2 separate regions of the Homo sapiens genome follow, and region 1 is linked to region 2. The links come from fine-mapping of genetic effects on gene expression. A gene starts in region 2. The other region holds a variant in brackets. All regions are shown on one strand. Distances are between the middles of the regions. Region 1 has its middle 98 kb from the start of MMADHC-DT. Region 2 holds the start of LYPD6 (LY6/PLAUR domain containing 6).

Evidence for each region. PIP is the estimated chance that this variant, and not a neighbour inherited with it, causes the effect.
Region 1: its variant is the best candidate, but not a certain one, in a credible set for the expression of LYPD6 in tibial nerve (GTEx, PIP 0.83).

The regions. Positions count from the first base shown.
Region 1 is chr2:149,486,431-149,491,809 of GRCh38, forward strand. No RefSeq gene overlaps it. Among named protein-coding and RNA genes, the nearest start is that of MMADHC-DT, 98 kb to the right of the region's middle. The variant A/G (reference allele first, on the strand shown) is at 2,746.
Region 2 is chr2:149,327,316-149,332,694 of GRCh38, forward strand. It overlaps LYPD6 (LY6/PLAUR domain containing 6), which reads left to right and starts at 3,272. Exons shown (of 5, transcript NM_194317.5): 1 at 3,272-3,407. MIR9899 (microRNA 9899) reads right to left here and starts at 3,058; the gene lies at 2,963-3,058. RefSeq lists a silencer at 2,889-3,358.

The DNA of each region.
Region 1 (5,379 bases), 160 kb after region 2:
CGAATGTTTTTTGATGTGTTGATTAATTGTCTCACAAATATTCCTGTTTGAAAAGACAAATCTAGGTTCGGATTCAAGCTTCGCTAGTTAAAACACTCTCCCTAATCTTCTTCAATCTTCTGCTTGTAAAATGGGATAAATGAGCTTGTTGCGAGGGTCAGCCATCAGCAATGTAAGCCCATAGCATGTGCAGGTGCAGGCATGTGCGAGCATCAAATGAGCAGTCCTTTCTTGACGGGTGTGCTGGGCACTGTGCTGGCACTGGTGTGACAAAGACCATGACTTGGAATGCACCCCTAAGGGGCTCCGGTGCTTATCAGGCTCACCCTCTTTCTCTTTTTGTTTTGTAAACTGCCTTGAAAATTTACCAATATATCACATTTTTCTGTCAGCAAGTAGAACTGTAGGAAATAATTTTTAATGGTTGGTTAGTATTACATTTTATGATTGCGCCATAATTTATTTCATCATTTCCTCTTTCTTATTTTTTAGGTGTTTCTAGTTTTTTACTTTGAAAATCTTTTTATATAAAAGTAATGCATGAGCATTGAAATTTGAAATTGTTCTGTAGAAAAGTAAAACCATTCTCCCTTTCCACTCCATCTCTTCCCATTCTTCAGCAATAACTGCTATTAATAATTTCTTGAGTATACTTTTTAAATATTTTCTAATGCATATACAATTTTGCATGTATTTATATAATTATGTGAATGAATTCATATATACATGTAGAAAACAAGATCTGCAATATGCCTTTTAAAATTAGTACATATGGAACATCTTTTGCTGCTAGCACATGTAGATTCATTTTGTTTTCTAAGTGGCTGTATGTATTCCATTGTATAGATGGGCCATAATTTATTTAACTCATCCCCTACTTACTCAAATTCAGTGTGTTCTAAAAGTTGTGTCTAGATTTTGCTATTATAAACAATTATGCCATAAACATCTGTGCACCCTCTAGAGGTAACTGTGGGATAACTAATAGAAATGGAATTATTTTATGCGTTTATAGCTGTGTTCTATGTTACCAAGTTACCCTCTTGAAAGAGGTGCCAATTTAAGCTTATACCAACAGTGTATGAGAATGTCTGTATCTGCAAAGCCTCTCTAAACTTGGTATCCCATCAATATTTTATCTTTGAGATCTCTTTTTTTCTCATTTGGAAATATTAACAAGAATGTTTATGTTAACTCAGTGGAGAAAAGTCGGAGACATTTGGATAAGATGAGTTAATGCCCTTGCCCATTCTGGAATTATTTGGGAGGAAGGCTGCTCATGGGACAAGTCATTTTACCTTCCAGGAGAGATTCAACACTGGCCATTGACTATATGTGCAGCACACACTTCTTCTGAAGGCTTGAGGCATCTACCGTGTGACAGATCATGAATCAAATGACCTGCAAGCTTAGAGAGCCTTTCTCAGCCCTGCCACATGCAGCTATGTTGATGCTGATGTGACTGATTTTACTTCCTTCCCTTTATTCACCAACAGAGAGGTCGCTATCACACCACCAACTTCTGTTGCTTAGGTCCTGGCTTATGAAGAATAGACTCTGGGAGCACATTGGAAATCAACACTCTTGCCTTATGATGCAGGACAGATGCTGAAATTCTCTTAAGAGTAGCTTTATGATTATTTTCTTTGGAAACATGGATTAACTCACTTGCCATCTTCAGGCAGAAGAAAAACCTCATCCCCTCCCCACCCCACCCCATCCCTTTTAGATTCTGCAACTCTGTATTCTGAATTTTTGTTAAGAAAATCTACAAATTAGAAATATCATTTTAGGGACAATCAATATCAGGTTTCAATATAACAGCAACTGTTAAATAAGAGAAAATACCTACTTTCAAAGCCCGCATATCAATAAATAGTAATAATAAAGAAGTAGTAAAACTGGCTCAAGGAAACTAGCAGATTCAAATGAAAACTAGCAGATGATTCAAAACTAGCAGATTCAAATGACCAAATGTACACAGAAGCAGCAAGATTTCTATTGTTAAAATGTGACAAGGGACCTCAGAAATAATTAAACCAAACATCCTCAGTTCATTTGATAGAGGAGAACATGGATACACAAAGAGGAGATATGACTTATCCCAGGTCACATAGTAAGTTAGAGGCACTGTCGTGACCTATGATAATAGCAAATAAGAATGGCATGTTGAATTCTCAACAGCGTGTACATTTGGTATTGAAAGGGAATTATTTTTATGTACAGAATGCTCTTTTGTGAGCTGAAATAACGTCATGTATTGAATGCGCTAAAACCAAATGGATGCAATATCCAGTTTATTCTACATTTCCAGTGTTAATAGAGCATTTTAATCACTTTCTCTAGTCGAATTTCTTTCCTTCAGAGCAACACCCCTGCTGAGCACCATGTTTCCATGAAACGCTGTTGTTTTTTTCTCTGCAACTGTGAAACTCTTGTCTTGCTCCTCTGAAATAAGATAACCACAGGCAGGCTCTAGGCTACACCCACATTCTGGAAATATTTTATGAAAGGTTTTCCAACTTCCTAGAGAAGCTGCTGTTGTCGCTAATGGCAAAATCAACAGGGGGAAAAACACTTTAATTTGGGAAATTCTAGCACTTCCAACCAATGAGACTGGAAAGATAGGAAACAATCTGCTCTGCCCAAACAGCAAAGTTCTCCCTGGGAAGTTCAGTGGAACACGGCAGCTTGTCTTAGACTCAGAAAATTCTGGGTCTTTGGGATGAAAAAAAAAAAAATCAA[A/G]AGGCTTTTTGTCGGCTTGTGTACCAGAAACAGAACATTCACTACACGTGGGCTTGCAGAAGAAAAGAGGCCAACTCCGGGCACAGTTCCCTCCCACCTTCCACAGAAGCCGCTGAGCCGCACCCTGGTGCTTTCTGTGTGGGGCACAGTTTAGTTTATTATTATTATTAAACTCACTATCTGTCATCTTTCAGTAGGTTATGCCACGGTAGCCAACAACACTAAAAGCTTAGTGGCTTCAAAAAGAAAGGGTTTTTGTTGTTGTTGTTTTCCCTCCTTGCTCACACTATCAGCTGCAAGTTGGCACCATTGGTCTCCTTCATTCTGGAATTCAGGCTACAAGCGCAGCCTCTGTCTGGAGCATGCCATTCTCTTGATAGAGGGCAAAGAGAGCAAGATCGCTGTGGGGAAGCCACAATGCCTCTTAACACCTTCTGCTAGGAACACACACTTTCGCTTCCGGTCTCATTTCATTGGCCAAAGCAGGTCCCTTAGCCAAGCTGCTGTCAATACGGCAGCGCAGAGCAGCACACTCCCCCTCTCCTCCAACTGGGGACTCTGCAAGTCACGTGGCAGGGGCAAACCGAGTGGGGGAAGGGGCAGTGAACACTCGGGAACAACTGTGCTACCCACCATTCAGGTTAAGTCCCAGAAACGTTGCGCTCCTCAAAAATCAGAGGGGATGGGGCTCCTGCCTTTGACGTGTTCTGACCAACAGCTCTGAAGCCAAGGGGCATCAATATTAAGTCATGATTCTAAAAGTAGGGATGGGCTAAGGTCAAAGTTCATGGGAGGTGTGGTTTCACTCTATGCAACACGCATTACCCACCCGTCCCACCCTCGTCTTTTCCTCCTTACTGAAATAGGTAGGTTTGATGTGGTTTCTACGTTTTCCAAAATTGGACAAGATGGCAACAACAGAAAAATGTCAACAACAGAAAAATGTCTATTAGGATGTTTTCCATACGGCTGAGCCTTGGATTTTTTTTTATGAGGAAAAATGGTTTAAGTGGGTGATTTTGAGTGGTGGCTGTGAAAGAAAAATCCAATTTTGAATCATTTCTGAACCAATTTTCCCTACTTGTGTGTTTAGATAAAACAAGGAAAAAAAGCAAGACTGAAGATCAGCTGCTTTTTAAAAATGAAATGAGTCTACTTTTTTTTTTCTCATGAAAATCAGTTTTAGATGTTGATTCTGAAATGCAAGTCCAGCTCCAGCAAAGGGTTTTCAGTGGATGGTTTGTCTTGCCTTTTTTCCCGCTGGGATCTTCAGGCATTCAGTACCCTCATGCTGCCCTCTGCAGTACTCTGGGCCAGGAAGCTACAAAATTCAGCAAAAATGTAGGACACGTGTACTCAGGGCTAGGAACTATGCCAGCTGGAGCTGAAACGCTGGATCCCACACAGCCCCTCCCCTCAGAAGCCAGCAATCTCAGAGGGGAGACAAACAAGTAAACAAGAAATTATACTAGAGTGATGAATGCTGCAAGGTTGAGGTACAAAGAGAACTTTTCAAGTACAAAGGAGGGAAGTATAACTCACTTTTACAAAATAGGAAAGGCTTCCTAGAGAGGATGATTTATAAACTGAGAGATGAAGGATGAGGGGGAGCCAGCTAGGTGATAGGGAGGAGAGGAAATCCATTCTGGGACTCAGGCTGCACGCCCCTAAGTAGGAAGCAAAGGGTGAAGGGCTTTGTACTTTACTCGCGGCAGCATCCCTGACCACTGAGATAATGGGATGATGATGATGATGGTGATTGTTATCATTATTATTTTGAGACAGGGTCTTACACTGTCACCCAGGCTGGAGTGCAGAGGTGCGATCTCGGCTCACTGCAGCCTTGACATCCTGGGCTCAAGCAATCCTCCCACCTCAGCCTCCCGAGTAGATGCACCTGGGATTACAGGTGCATGCCACCATGGCTGGTTGGGTTTTTTTTTTTTTTTTTTTTTTTTTTTTTTGTGTGTGTGTGTGTGTGTGTACTTTTTCATAAAGACTGAGTTTCGCCGTGTTGTCCAGGCTGGTGAGCTTTTTATAATGGTGATTCTCATCCTGTTAACCTATCTCAGCTCCTGTTTTTGTGTTTTTTCAAAATTTTATAAACTGTTATAATTTATTTTTTATTTCGAATAACTAAAGATAAAAAAGTTTTTAAAAAGGATAAGATAAATACCCATGTACTTCCCATCCAGAATTAGCAAATATTAATATGTCATATTTCATTTGATTTTTAAAGAAGTAAACTATTACCAATAAATTGAGTTCTCTATCAGCCTTTCCCTGGTTTTTTCTTTTTATTCTTCTCTCCTCAGAGTGAAATGCTGTCATGAATTTTGTGAGTCAGGTTTTATATGTTTACTAAATATATATTAATAAACAACATTGTTTTGTGTAAGTAAATTTTACATAAATGATTTACTGTACATAATATTTTTCAAATTGAATGCTTCTCAACATGATGTTTTCAAGATCTACATATATACTGAGCTCCATTATATAAATATACCAGGATTAATTTGGCTGTACCACTGCTATGAAAATATGGGTTGTTATCAAGTTTGTTTTCTTTCTAGGAGGACTGCAGTAAAAGTGTTTGAATTAGGCTATTTATCTATTTACTTATGTTTACAC
Region 2 (5,379 bases):
TTCATGTGACTATTTGATCTAAAGTCTTTCTCTCCTACTCAGGTGATGGGTGCACTACAATCTGACTTCACCACTATACAATTCACCCATGCCAAAAACCACTCGTACTTCCAGAGCTATTGAAATAAAAATATACATTAATTTAAAAAATCAGAAAGGGCTGCTTTTAAAATAATCAATAAACAAGGCTGGGCATGGTGGCTCATGCCTGTAATCCTAGCACTTTGGGAGGCCAGGATGGGCAGATTACCTGAGGTCAGGAGTTCAAGACCAGCCTGGCCAAAATGGTGAAACCCCATCTCTACTAAAAATAAAAAAATTAGCTGGGCATCAACAACTCAGGAGGCTGAGACATGAGAATCACTGGAACCTGGAAGGCAGAGGTTGCAGTGAGCCAAGATTGTGCCACTGCACTCCAGCCTGGGTGACAGAGTGAGACTGTCTCAAAAACAAAAACATGAAACAATAACAACAAAAAATAATCAATAAACAGATCTGTAGTGAGAGCTGGGCAGGTTGGGAAGGTGCAGGGTGAGACCACCTATGGTAAATGTGAGCTGGCAGACTCAGCAGGGGTGAAACAGAGGATGGCACTCAGCCATGTTGGGCAGGGGTGAGAAGGAGAGGGCTTAAAATAAATAAATAAATAAAGTGCGTCTCTCTCTTCGTGCACTCCAGGAGTGTAAATACAATGTATGTTTTCTTCATCGCGTCACTTTGCTCCAGCCTGGGCAGCAGAGTGAGACTCCGTCAAAAAAAAAAAAAAAAAAAAAAAAAAAAGCTTGCTTCTGATGTACAGAAAGAAGGCGTTGCTTAATTCTGCCCCGGGCAGTTTCGAAGACTTGATTTTTAAAAAGGTGGTATTCGAAGTGAATCTTGAAGCAAAGATAGGAACTTGCTGTTGGGGCAGGAGAGAGTTGAGAAGGAAGAGAAGCACAGCATTCTAGCACTATGAAATCTTAGACATGGGTGTGTGAAGGTCCACGGACAGGCAGTTGTAGGTGGAGCAGAACCATCCTGCCTGCGGAACTGTGAGGACAGAAGATGAGACCAACGTGGAAAGCTGGGAACGGACTGGGAAGGAAACGCCTTGCCAACCAGGCTCCATTTGAACTTCCTCACAGTGGGGTTGGAACTGAAGAATTTTAAGCTTGAAAGTGACATGATTACATTAGTGATTCTGAAATAGAGAGGGCAGCGTGTGGTCGACTGGAGAGCAGAGCAGTGAAAGCCTGTTGCTGAAGCGCTGGTAAGGCATGATGAGGTCTGGCAGTGAAATAGAGATGCTGGGAGGGATGGATCTAGAAGTCATCCTAGGAGACAGAAACACAGGACTGGGCGATTGACAAGATGTGAAGGGAAAAGCAGAAGGAAGATTTAACATTTTCGCTCTTCTGATGCCTGAGGAGTGTTGTATGTTGGTAGTCAACATTTTAAAAAAATTTTTAAATTAATATTAATGTTCTTTAGAAAATACCGTAAAGTATAAAGAACAAGAAAACCATCCATTATCCCAACACGCAGAGATAACCACTGCAGACATTTCATATGCATATCTTTCCAGCCTTCTTTGAAAATATATTTCTGAAAAGAGATCCTAAGGGTTCCATCTCTACCAGGAACTCGGCTCTCATAAACTGCATTAATACGTTGAACTTCACTTTGAACCCAAATATGAATATTTTCACTAAACTATGCACCGATTTTTTTTAAATAAAGTGAATAAGTACATGGACCGGAACTGCCAACTGGAAACTAAATGAGTGTCAGCAGTGACACCCGGGACATGCCCTCATTAGTAGATGCTAACCCGCAGAGGTAACCTGCCTAGACACGGAGAGACATTTCCAAGTTCAGGTTGATTAATTCATATTCAATTCATTCACCCTGCTGAGCCCTGCAGGAAGACAGCGCGGCAGCGATCTCCACCTTGAGGGGGCGCTAATTATTTTTTGCCTACTTGAACCCTGAGCTTGGGCAAGCCTGTGCACATACACTAAGAGAAAAACTTTCTGAGGTCTAGCAGCTGTCGATCAAAAATAGGTTATCCTAGGCCCTTCCAAATAGAGGGACTGGGGAAGGAAGTTTAATTTAAAAAAGAGTAAGAATGTTTTTATGTTGGGATGGATAGATTATTGGGAAGGCAGGGTGATTCAGGAGAGGCCTGAAAAAATGCTCCAGGGGTAGAAAATCCAAGGAGAAGGTGGAGGGGTCTCAAAGATCGACAAATAGCCACATGGCGGGCCGCCCTTACGAAGGTAGCCTTGCAGGCCAAGTTCGGGGGGAGGTGGGGAGGCTGGTTCCGAGTTTCCGGGCATATCCGTGGAGTCCTTCCAGACCTTCCTGGGGACCTTCCCCGGTCACCCCGGCTCCCCGCCGGCCCCCCGCGCTGCTCAGGGGAGAGTAGGACTATGACCCACTTCCACTCTAAGGCTCTAGATCGAACCGTCCAGGGGGGTCAAACACGATTTACAACAAGGAAGAGAAAAACCAATACGTCCCAAGAGGGCTGCAGGGGCTTTAACTGGAGGAAGGGTTGGGCAGAGGGTGGCAGTATTATGCCCTGGACTTTTTTGCACCAAACCCATAACCGGATTCCCACTTCCTAAGACCTGCCTTCCTGGCTCTTCCCACCGCCTCCATGCTCCGCCCCGCAGCTTAGGTCTTTTACTGCAAACGTCAAGTGGTCTCCGCCTTCCCTGGGTTCGGAGCTTCACTTGCTCTTGAGCTCTGCGGTCCGGCGGATTTCGCGGGGCCCAGGGGATGGCGGGGAGTGAGATTTGGCCAGGGTCATTTCACACTGCCGGGCCTGCAGCCACGCACGCAGCTGCTGGCCCGGCTGAGGCTGGCGGCTAGGGAGAGGCGCCAGGGGGTCGCGCACAGGAAGGTATCGGTGCACCCTGAGCAAACACTGCTCGCTTCCAACGCTCACTGGGAACAGGCTTCCCGGGAAGGTCCCAAATCTCTCCAGTTCCGCTCACCCTGCGGGCGGGAGCGCGGCGCCCGGGTGCCCCACCTGCGCCGGGCGGTCGGCTCCCGCTGGCCGGAGTTTGCAGACTTGGCGCTCAGGCCGATTCTCCCGGAGTTGGGCCGCGCGCGCCGGGCCAATGAGCGCGCCCCGCGGAGGGCTCCGCTCCCCCCGCGCGCGCTGATTGGTCCCGCGGCCCTCGAGGCCGGGCCGGCCGCGGCTGCGGGCGGCGGCCAGTGCCCGGCGCGAGTGGGAGTGGCGCGCGCGCCCCTAGCCGCCCCCCGCCTCTCCCCGCTGCGCTCCCTCGCTCCTTCCCTGAGCTCCCGGGCTCCGGCAGCGGGCTGGCGGGGCGCCGCATTGCACACTCTGGGGGCGCCGCAGTGTTCGTGGGATGGGGCAGCGGGCTGCAGCTGGCGGCCGGAATCCGCGCGCAGCCCGGGTGAGTAGAGGCGGGCTTCCCGGGAGAGCACAAAAGAACAGGGGATTGGTGCCAGCGGCCCCGGCTTAGGCGGGGCCTGGCCAAGGCAGGGAGTGCGCTGAGTCCCTGGAACTACCCGATGCTAGGGCAGTCCCCTGGGGCCAGAGGAACTGGGGTCCCGGCCTCCGGCGTTTTGCCCCTAGTGGGCAGAGAGCCCCGCGAGTAGCCTGGACGGGTCCAGAGGGGCGTGTGTACTCGTGTGTGTTGGGCTGGCGCGTGGAGGGTGGGATGGAAAGGTCAGGAGCTGCCAAGTTCAAGGCTGGAGGAACCTTTCCCAGGAGTAATTCAGCATCTTCTCACGGCCCAACATGCGTCCACCAGGAACTCCAGCCGGAGGGAGTTCCTGGGCGGCGGACTGGCAGCACCCCACATGTTGCTGCGGGGCGGGGGGCAGTGGCGGTAGCCCGGCTGCGGCCACCCGGAGCCTCTAAGGGAGGTGCAGTGTGCTGGAGGTACCTCCCCGCCGCTGCAAGACCACGCTAGGCCTTTCAGCCATCCACCCCGACAACCCAGGGAAGGGACCATCCACCCACAGAGTTGGGATTTGGCCTGGGCTTGACTTGGCGACCTGTTTTTCTCTCCGGTAACAGCAGTTCCGTTGATTCACATTTGGCTAAGCGTTCAGTTACAACCTAAAGCTCACTATCTGACGGTCTGACTCGCTCTGACCCCCACCATATCCTCACTATCTCTACCGCTGCCCTCCTCCAGTCCCCTCTCCCGCCCCAGTATCTGCCCTGCTCCTCACTGCGGGGCTCAAAACTTGGTGTTTGAGCATGATTGCCTTCGGTGTGGTCCTTGGCATTTTCAAGTGTCACAATCACATCCCGTTTCCTAGAGGACTCCAAAGACTTGTTATAATGGGATCGGGGGAGAGAATTGGGTGGGGGGGAATGGAAGAGGGTCTTTGGTAGTCACTTGTTGGAAGAACAGCATTGACCTCCCAGAGCATATGACAAAAAGAATGTTAAGCTTCTTTCTATGGTAACCTACCCAAGGTGTGACCTCCAAAATTCAATTTTCTTTGTGGGAGGCAAGGGAGTTTAGATTCTCCAGGGGGAAGCTTATTTCTTGTTAAATTGACTTGCGGTGACATACACACTGTTCTGCTCTGCTCTGGCCAGCCATTGCAGATGCCATGATATTATTAGAGCAATTCCCTTAAAGCCATTACATTTTCTTTCGAGTGAGAGGAACTCGAGCTAGCTGTTTAAAATTTTGGATCTGCACCTTATTTCTCTAGAAGACATTAATGGTTACTGTATATGCGCTCACGTGTACCAAGTTTGCAAAAGGTATTTGTGCAATCGCCCATGAAATGGGTTAATGCACATTTATGTTAAACCCATTTAAATGTAAAACATCTATCTGTTTTCAATTTTAGTTTCCACCTCGACCAAAGGCACCAGACTGAAATAAGACTTAAAAGAGGCTTCCTTGTTTAAATAGAGGTTTATAGAACTCTAGTCCTGAGAGCACACAGTAAGCTTTCTGAGCTTGTAGGCACACAAAGCTTGTTAAAAATTGTGAAATGGTTCCTTGAGTTAGAAATAATGGAAATGCTTCCAGACCAATTAAGACAGACAATTGATGAAGCTACACTCTCAAGCTGTTGACAGTCTTTGTAAGGTGAATGTTTATAGTACATAATGCATAAATCGGGCTGATTCTAGGCAAATAATATCAAGTAAAAAACCATACCATGTGTTGTATCATACTGGATAGTTTATATGGCATATTGAAATCTACTATTAAAGTGTCTGAGGAAATCATATCTTTATCATCCCCATTTCACAGATGAAACAACTGAGGCTTTCAAAGATTGACTTTTCCAAGATCAATAGCAGAGTTCAGTCAAGTGTTTTTCAAATTCTTTCCTACCTCACCCGTTCCCTTCCTTCCTTCCTTTTTGGTGTTTACCTACTTCTTTGTT